Homo sapiens: one gene and its partner. The protein of the gene in region 2 interacts with the protein of the main gene of each other region in a pairwise test. Each region holds a gene or a part of one and is shown on either strand. Other genes may lie near its edges.

Region 1 (4,399 bases), on a different chromosome or scaffold from region 2:
ATGCGGCCGCCGGCACCCACCATGGCGTGTAGCACGCGGGGTTCGCTCATGGGCGCCTTGAACTCCCACTGGTCGGCCACGGGGTCGTAGCAGTGCAGGGCCTTCTTGTCCTCCACTGAGATCCCGTAGCCACCCGAGATGTAGAGGCGGCCCCCTGAGGCGGCCCCAGCATGGCCCCAGGTACGGCGCTTCAGCGAGCAGGCGTAGCCCCACTCATTGCGCCGGGGGCAGTACCGCTCCACGGAGGCCAGGCTGCCGGCTCGGTTGCGGCCGCCCGTGGCGTACACCATGCCGCACAGCACGTTCAGCTGGAACTGGATGCGGCTTTCCTGCATGGCCTGCAGGCGCAGCCAGCGATTCAGGTGGGGGTCGTAGCGGTAGCAGGCGTCCACTGCGCCCTCGCCGCTGCGGTACTGCAGGTGCTGCCCCCCGGCCACGTACACAAAATTGTCCAGCACGGCCACGCACGTGTGGCTGCAGCCTACCTCCATCTCCGTGAGCTCGCGGAAGTGGCGGGCTCCCGGCTCAGGCAGCTGGTAGACCTTGCTGCTGACCGAGCGGTCGCTGTCGGTGTAGGGCGTGCCGCCGAAGGTGACGAGCGAGGGCACATCCGAGCGCACGGCGGTGCGCGGAGACTGCATCTCGTGCTGCCGGAAGGGCAGCACCTGGTAGTTGAAGGCCTCCAGCAGATACTGGCGGCACAGCACGTCCTCCACCATGATGTCCAGCGTCTGCACGCTGTCCACCAGCTCGGACGACTGCATGAGCGGGAAGCGAATGTGGCAGAGCACGTGGCTGGCGCGCGGCCGCCGGGCCGGGTCATGCTGCAGCCAGCGGACGGCCGCGCGGAACAGGTCGATCTCGGCACAGCTCTGCAGCCGGTTGCTCTGCAGGAAGAAGACCAGGCGCTCCAGTGGCAGGCGCAGGAAATCCTCCTCCTCGGCGATCTGCAGGAAGTGCCGGAAGGTGAAGGCATCCACCGACTCTCGCAGCGAGGCCAGGCTGAAGGTGGTGGCCATCTGGCCGATGTTGAGGCAGGTCTCCACGCTCATGGCCGCCTTCAGGAACTCCTCGCACAGCTCCACCACGGGCAGCATCTGCAAGAACACGGCCGCGCCCAGCACGTCCTGCACGCAGTCCAGGTCCAGTGTCACCTCGGCGCTGTAGGCGAAGTCGATGATGTGCCGCAGGCCACGGGCCGACACGCCCTTCAGCTCGATGACGTCCTGGCTTGCCTCCCGCATGCCGCCGGTGAACATGGCCCTGAAGGGCAGAAACACAACGTGTGGCTGGCAGTGGCTGAGGGGTGTTTTGGCCAGCCAGGAATGATCTGGCCTGGGGAACAGTAGCCTGGGGACACAGAACACAGGGCACAGCCAGCAAGAGGAAAGTAGGCGGAATGCTCATTAAAAACATGCAAAGGGGCCGGGCGCGGTGGCTCATGCCTGTAATCCCAGCACTTTGGGAAGCCCAGGCGGGTGGATCATGAGATCAGGAGATCGAGACCACTGGCACTGCACTCCAGCCTGGGTGACAGAGTGAGACTCAGTCACAAAAACAAACAAACAAACAAACAAACAAAAACATGCAAAGGCCAGGCACAGTGGCTCACGCCTGTAATCCTAGCACTTTGGGAGGCCGAGGTGGGTGGATCACCTGATGTCAGGAGTTCAAGACCAACCTGGAGGTTGCAGTGAGCCGAGATCATGCTGCACTGCAGCCTGGACAATAAGAGTGAGACTCTGTCTCAAACAAACAAAAAAAACATGCAAAAAAAAAAAAAGATTTTGAATCCACCCAAGCCATGCATCTTCCTATAAATAGCAACTCCCTGCTTGGCCCCTCTGCAGAGGACCCTGCCCCTGCCCCTTCATGACTAGATCGTGTTGGAGCTGCAGGAGCGGTGGCCCGGGTCAGCCTCACCCACAATGTGCCTGTCGGGGGTGCGGTTAGAGGGGCCAGGTATGGCAGTGCAGGATGAGAACACACCCTGTGGCTCTGGGGACAGATCTGCAGCCCCACTTGACACCTGAGCTCAGGAACTGCAAGGCCAGTGCTCTGGAGGTGCCATGCACCACAGTTCAACCCTCACCTTGTTCACTGACCTAAGCAGGCAGCTCTGATATGCCCAGCCTGAGTCTCAACAACCATCATGTGAAGAGGGGAAGGTAATGAGGGTCCCCAGGAATGGAGCCCCCACCAGGAGGCTGTGCTGGGGTGACTGCTGTCTCCAGAGACAGGCTCAGGTGGTCGGGGAAGCACCTCCCACCCAACAGCTACGTCCCCAGCCTCCATTGAGACCCCAGCTCCGCCCTTGTACTGCTGTGCTCTGCGAGGCAGAACATGAGAGTGGGAGGGGACACAGGCCCCCGTGAGGGAGGGCAGCGGGGAGGCACACGGTTCTAGGTCACAGTTCCCCTACAGCGTTTAGGGTGTTCCCCAGCAGAAGAGGGGAGAGCACCCCAGCTCCAGGGGAATGGGCGGTTCCTTCCAGGAGGCGCAATGGCATGGCATAGTAACTCTCACTCCTGCCAGTGCACCTCCCCTGATGGCCGTCCGAGGAGGAGGGAACATCCCTTGTGCATTTGACCCACAGAGGCCTGTCCCCTAGTCTTGCACCTCCTGTGAGCCAGGCTCAGGGCTACAGGGGCAAGGACAGCTGCCAGGGCACTATCTCGGGGCCGCCCACTGACATCTGCCCAACAAGCAGCTCTTCAGCATCTCTGAGCGGTCCAGGAGCAGTAAGTACGCTGCCAGCTCCCCAGACCCTGCCCCGCTTGTCCCCACGGGTCCACGCTGGCCCTCGGGCATGATGCGATGAAGGCAGAGGCGGTCGCAGGCGACAGGAGGGAGCTTTGCCTTTTAAGGTCTCGCTGGCTGCAGTGCCAGCACAGGGGAGCCTTTAAAGGGCATTGCTGGCTGGGCTGGCCCACCCGTCCCCAAATCCAGAATAAAAATAGAAGCGGCGCCCCAGTTGGCTCGGCTGCTGCGGCCCCCACAACAGCCTCATTGAGCCCATGGGGCAGGCGGCCCGGGCCTCGGGGAATGTGTGGCTGAGCGGCACACCTGGGCTGGGGCCTGGGAGCCTCCCCAGGGCGGCCCAGCTCTCTCTGGCGGGGTCACCACCTGGCAGGAAGGAGGCTCACCTGCTGGTCACCCAGGGAGGGAGACCACTCAGCCCTGCAACAGCCCCCAGCTGGCGAGGAGAAAGCACCCCCCACCCCACAGCCCTGCTCTGTGGTGCTCTCACTTCCGGCCCGGCCACGGCACAGGGACAGACAGACAGTGCCCGCCATGGCCTCTTCTGTCACGTTGGGGAAGTGCCCACAGCTCAGGGAGACAGGGAGGAGAACTCATCTGGGCCTCAGACAGAGCCCAGGACATGGTGTTGGCAGACACAGGGTCTCTGCGGCCCTCGATGCCCCTCCAGTCCCCCAGCTGTCCTGCTCCAGGTGTCCTGAGGGGATGCCCTGAGGGCAGGGGCTTGTGCCCATTTCACTGTCATCCCTGCTGCATCCCAAGGACTAGAATAGTGCCTGGCATACAGCAGGCGTCAAGTAAAGACAGATTGGGCTGGGCGCAGTGGCTCACGCCTGTAATCCCAGCACTTTGGGAGGCTGAGGCAGGTGGCTCATGAGGTCAGGAAATCAAGACCATCCTGGCTAACATGGTGAAACCCCGTCTCTACTAAAAATACAAAAAATTAGCCAGGTGTGGTGGCATGCGCCTGTAGTCCCAGCTACTCGGGAGGCTGAGGCAGGAGAATCGCTTGAACCCGGGAGGCGGAGGTTGCAATGAGCCAAGATTGTGCTACTGCACTCCAGCCTGGGCGACACAGCGAGACTTTGTCTCAAAAAAAAAAAAAACAAAACAGATCAAAAACCTGGCCAAGCCCTGCCACCCTGCATGCAGGGTAGAAGTGAGTGGGTGCCCACAGGCCATCTCTGTCCCTCCAGGCATGTTCTGCCCAAAGAGAGTAAGATGCAAACTCCGGGAAACCTGCAGGTTTACTGGACATTAAACCTCTCTCTAAAATCAGAAGGGGCCCGGAGCGGTGGCTCACGCCTATAATCTCAGCACTTTGGGAGGCCAAGGCAGGCAGATCACGAAGTCAGGAGTTCAATACCAGCCTGGCCAACATGGTGAAACCCCGTCTCTACTAAAAAATACAAAAAAAATTAGCTGGGCATGGTGGCGGGTGCCTGTACTCCCAGCTACTCGGGAGGCTGAGGCAGGAGAACTGCTTGAACCCAGGAGGCGGAGGTTGCAGTGAGCCGAGATTGTGCCACTGCACTCCAGCCTGGGCAACAGCGCGAGACTCCATCTCAAAAAAAAAAAAAGAGCAGCCGGTACCAGCCGTTCTCCCTCGAAGCTGTCCCTGGGTAGCGCTGAGACAGGC
Region 2 (3,500 bases):
GTAAAAGGAGCACAGGCTTCTACTGCTTTGTATCAACTTCCAGCTTCATATTTAACAACTGGGAGCTAAGGCACCAACAATGAAAGGAAACACCACAGCTCAGAACTGGGGGCCAGCCTGGCTCACACTGCCTGGGTGGACCTCAGAACCCAGGCCACAGAGAATGTTCTAACTGCTGCTGTGGGAGCCAACAATGCAGGCCCTGTGAAACAGCCACCCATTCATGCTAGCTATCAATGATGAAAGAGAGACAGATGCCAAGGGCTCAATACCAGACACATGCCAAGGGGAAGGAAGTGGGTAGAAGGAAAGAATGGAAACTTACGGAGGAAGGAAATATGTGGAGGAAGAATCTCTGAGGGTCATAATCCTATTAGAGAAACCACAATCCACCAATATTTTGTGGAATATAAGAAATGATGGAAAGAAATTCTTATAATCATATGACTTAGCCAGGCAATTCCTAAGAAAGACACTTTGGTATCTGAAAAGCTTGCCGAGATCCAAGACCCTAAGGCTGGTGTTCTTGTTCCCATTAAAAACTACATCCAAGGCCAAGATGAGTTTTTTTTGGCAGATCAATGGGTGGGAAAAGAATTACTCAATGGTTTCTTCCTTCTGCAAAGTAAGGATAATATAAGGTCTCTTAGGGACAAGGTGCTAACAATAGAATATACTGATCAAGAAGCAGTTTTTAAGCAAATCACTTCTTTGTGCAATTCTGGGATCTTAATTGGGGGATTGTTGCGGTAATTAAATTATACGTGTAATGCATTAAGAACCGTGTCTAGCACATGCCACGCTCTCAATAGATGTTGAAATTGTTATTATCCTCCACACAGGGTCCGTTACAACACACTTTGCTCACAGATGAGACCAACTACTTCTCCGTTCCTCACAGGTCTGTCACAAGGATCATCAAAGATAAGGTACATGAAAGTACTCTGTAAGATATAAAGCACTTCACAAGCATTCATTACCTTCACCATCCTTATAACTCTGAACAGCAGAAGGAAGGGACAGAAGGTAATATGGTGAGAGGGCTGAAGTGAGAAACTCTGAGACAGGCCCCAGAACTGTCACTGTAACCACTCATCCCATGGACAAATGTATGAAGTGTCTGTCCTCAGGAGGCACCCAGGTGGATATGAGGATAAAGAGGCCGGGTGTGGTGGCTCACGCCTGTAATCCCAACGCTTTGGGAGCCTGTGGTGGGAGGATTGCTTGAGCTCAGGAGTTCAAGATCAGCTTGGGCAACATGGCGAGACCTCATCTCTATAAACAATTTAAAAATTAGCTGGGTGTGGTGGTGCACACCTGCTGTCCCAGCTACTTGGGAGGTTGAGATGGGAGGATAATTTGAGTCCAGGAATTCAAGGCTGCAGTGAGCTGTGATCATGCCACTGCACTCCAGCCTGGGAGACACAGCGAGACCTTGTCTCACCAAAAAATAAAAAATAAAAAAAATAAAGACACCAAGTCTGCCTCAATAGATGCTTTAAGACAGGCATAAATCATATGCTTGGCAGACAAAAAGGAAAGCCTGATTACTTCGAACCAGAAGGCTTCTCAGAAGAGGTAGCTTTCGAGCTGAGCACTGAAGGAGAAATAAGACCTTGTCAGGCTTACAGAGAAGTAAAAATACATTAGAAAAGGCAGAGAAGGGCCAGGTGTGGCAGTACATGCCTGTAATCCCAGCACTTTGGGAGGCTGAGAGAGGAGGATCACTTGAGCTCAGGAGTTAGAGACCACCCTGGGCAACAAACCTCACGCCCAGGGACTAGTGAAGTTGCAGAAGAGACCCTTAGGCCTTTCTCCTACACTACTTCCCATGTTCCCCGAGCTCTGCCCTCCCCACAGTCTGCCCTTCTAGGAGAGAAACAAGGAGATAGTGGCACACAGGGAGGGAGGCCTGTTTCTTATGCTACCCATACATCGAGGCCAGCTGTTCTACTCAATATGGCACACCAGCATGCTAATTCCCAATCCCATCAACTTGTGATCCTCATTCATTTTCCTTATACCCTGTGAGCTACTGAAGCAAGGGGTCTTCTGTGCTGCATTTTAATTACTACGATGAGCTATGGGATCTCAAGGGCTTTTGAATAATAACACTTCAACATTTACACATTTTCATTCACCTCTGCCCACTTAAATTAAGGCTAAAGAATGCAGCTCATGTGAGGAGTTGCTAATTCAAATCTCCCCTCAGGCCCAGAGAAGAAGGCTGGGGGACCCAGTGTCTCATATTGTTTTGTGTTCTCCGTATCATTAGGATTGGAATCCTCCAGCTGCCTAGTCACTATAGTGAGCATCAAAAACCATGGGTGTGCAGGAGAACTCCCAAGTACATGGCTGCTTTCAGAGGGTCACCAGGCTCTTCCTGGAAGGAAGGTCCTGACCAAGTTATTCAGACACTTGCTGAAGACTGCAATTTGATAAGACAAATAGACTGAGAGTTCATTTTGGTCCACGGCAACCTGAGAAATAGAATAAGAGCTAGACAGGGATTCAAGAAGCCCATGTTTTAGTTCCAGCCCCGTGACTTTTCCTCTCTAGGTCTCTTTCAAAAAATGAATGCCTGGGATGCATTCTCCAGGGCTTTGGGATTTAGGCTAGTTTGAATCTGTGATTAAAGGACCTCTCTATAGTCCCTACCAGTTCTATGATGTTAAGAACATGAATAGCAGAAAGGCTTTTGATGAAATGGTTTTAGCCTCATGGTTAAAAGTACAGGCTTTGGATTCAGTCACACTAGGGTTTAAGTCTCAGCTCCAATACCTAACCTTTTCTTCCTCAGCTCTGAAACAGGGACAAAAATAGCCCCTACCCTGAAGATCTGTCACAAGATATACAATGACATAATCAACATAAAGGAAATCAGCATGGCAGCTGGCCCGTGGGAAGCATTCAGTAAATGATAGCTGCTATCATTATCACCATTTTTCATTTACAGTCATTTCTGAACTCTTAGCTCATCATGCTAACACTGCACAGAGAGGCTGGTTTCCCTTCTCCTGACTCTGCAAAGGAGACTGATTTATTCTGAGTAGCCCTTTTAAAGAGGCAGAATAAAACTCAAATGCCAGGGAAGGCCAGTATTCTTATAAGTTTGGTTTGGGATTACATGTAATAGCACAGTGGAGAATCTTCAGATTAGGAGCCATCTGTACTCACCTTGGGGCCCATAGGTATAGCCCAGCTTTGGGACTTCGGACTGTTTCACATTGACTTGGTCTTGATTACCTCATTACATCTCCCCCTTCTTCTTGAACTCCTAAAGCGTCTGTTCTCTACCTGTCATTGGACCTCTGACCTCTGGCCCCCAAACTTCCCTAGTTTTCAATATACCAGCTTTGCCTGGATCAGCTTCCAACCAGCCACGATTTCTAACCATGCCTAATTTAATAGCATATTTGCTGTCTTTGCTCCCCTTGATCTTCTGCCAGTTCTTGTAGTGGGTATTCATAGCCATTTGCTTTCTCTTCTCCAGTTGCTGG

What was found. The genes of interacting proteins can lie anywhere in the genome.
Region 1: the proteins of ANKS1A (region 2) and KLHL26 interact in a two-hybrid assay, tested with the Homo sapiens proteins (one large-scale study listed by BioGRID).

Annotation. Positions count from the first base shown.
Region 1 is NC_000019.10:18,664,528-18,668,926, reverse strand, and holds part of KLHL26 (kelch-like protein 26), read right to left. Parts: intron 1,527-4,399; coding exon of another isoform or gene 1,484-1,526; exon of another isoform or gene 1,351-1,483; coding exon of another isoform or gene 1,264-1,350; coding exon 1-1,263. UniProt on the Homo sapiens protein: May play a role in endo(sarco)plasmic reticulum (ER/SR) mitochondrial signaling. May be part of the ubiquitin-proteasome system (UPS) and affect ubiquitination and degradation of target substrates in cardiomyocytes.
Region 2 is NC_000006.12:35,011,255-35,014,754, reverse strand, and holds part of ANKS1A (ankyrin repeat and SAM domain-containing protein 1A), read right to left. Parts: intron 1-3,500. UniProt on the Homo sapiens protein: Regulator of different signaling pathways. Regulates EPHA8 receptor tyrosine kinase signaling to control cell migration and neurite retraction.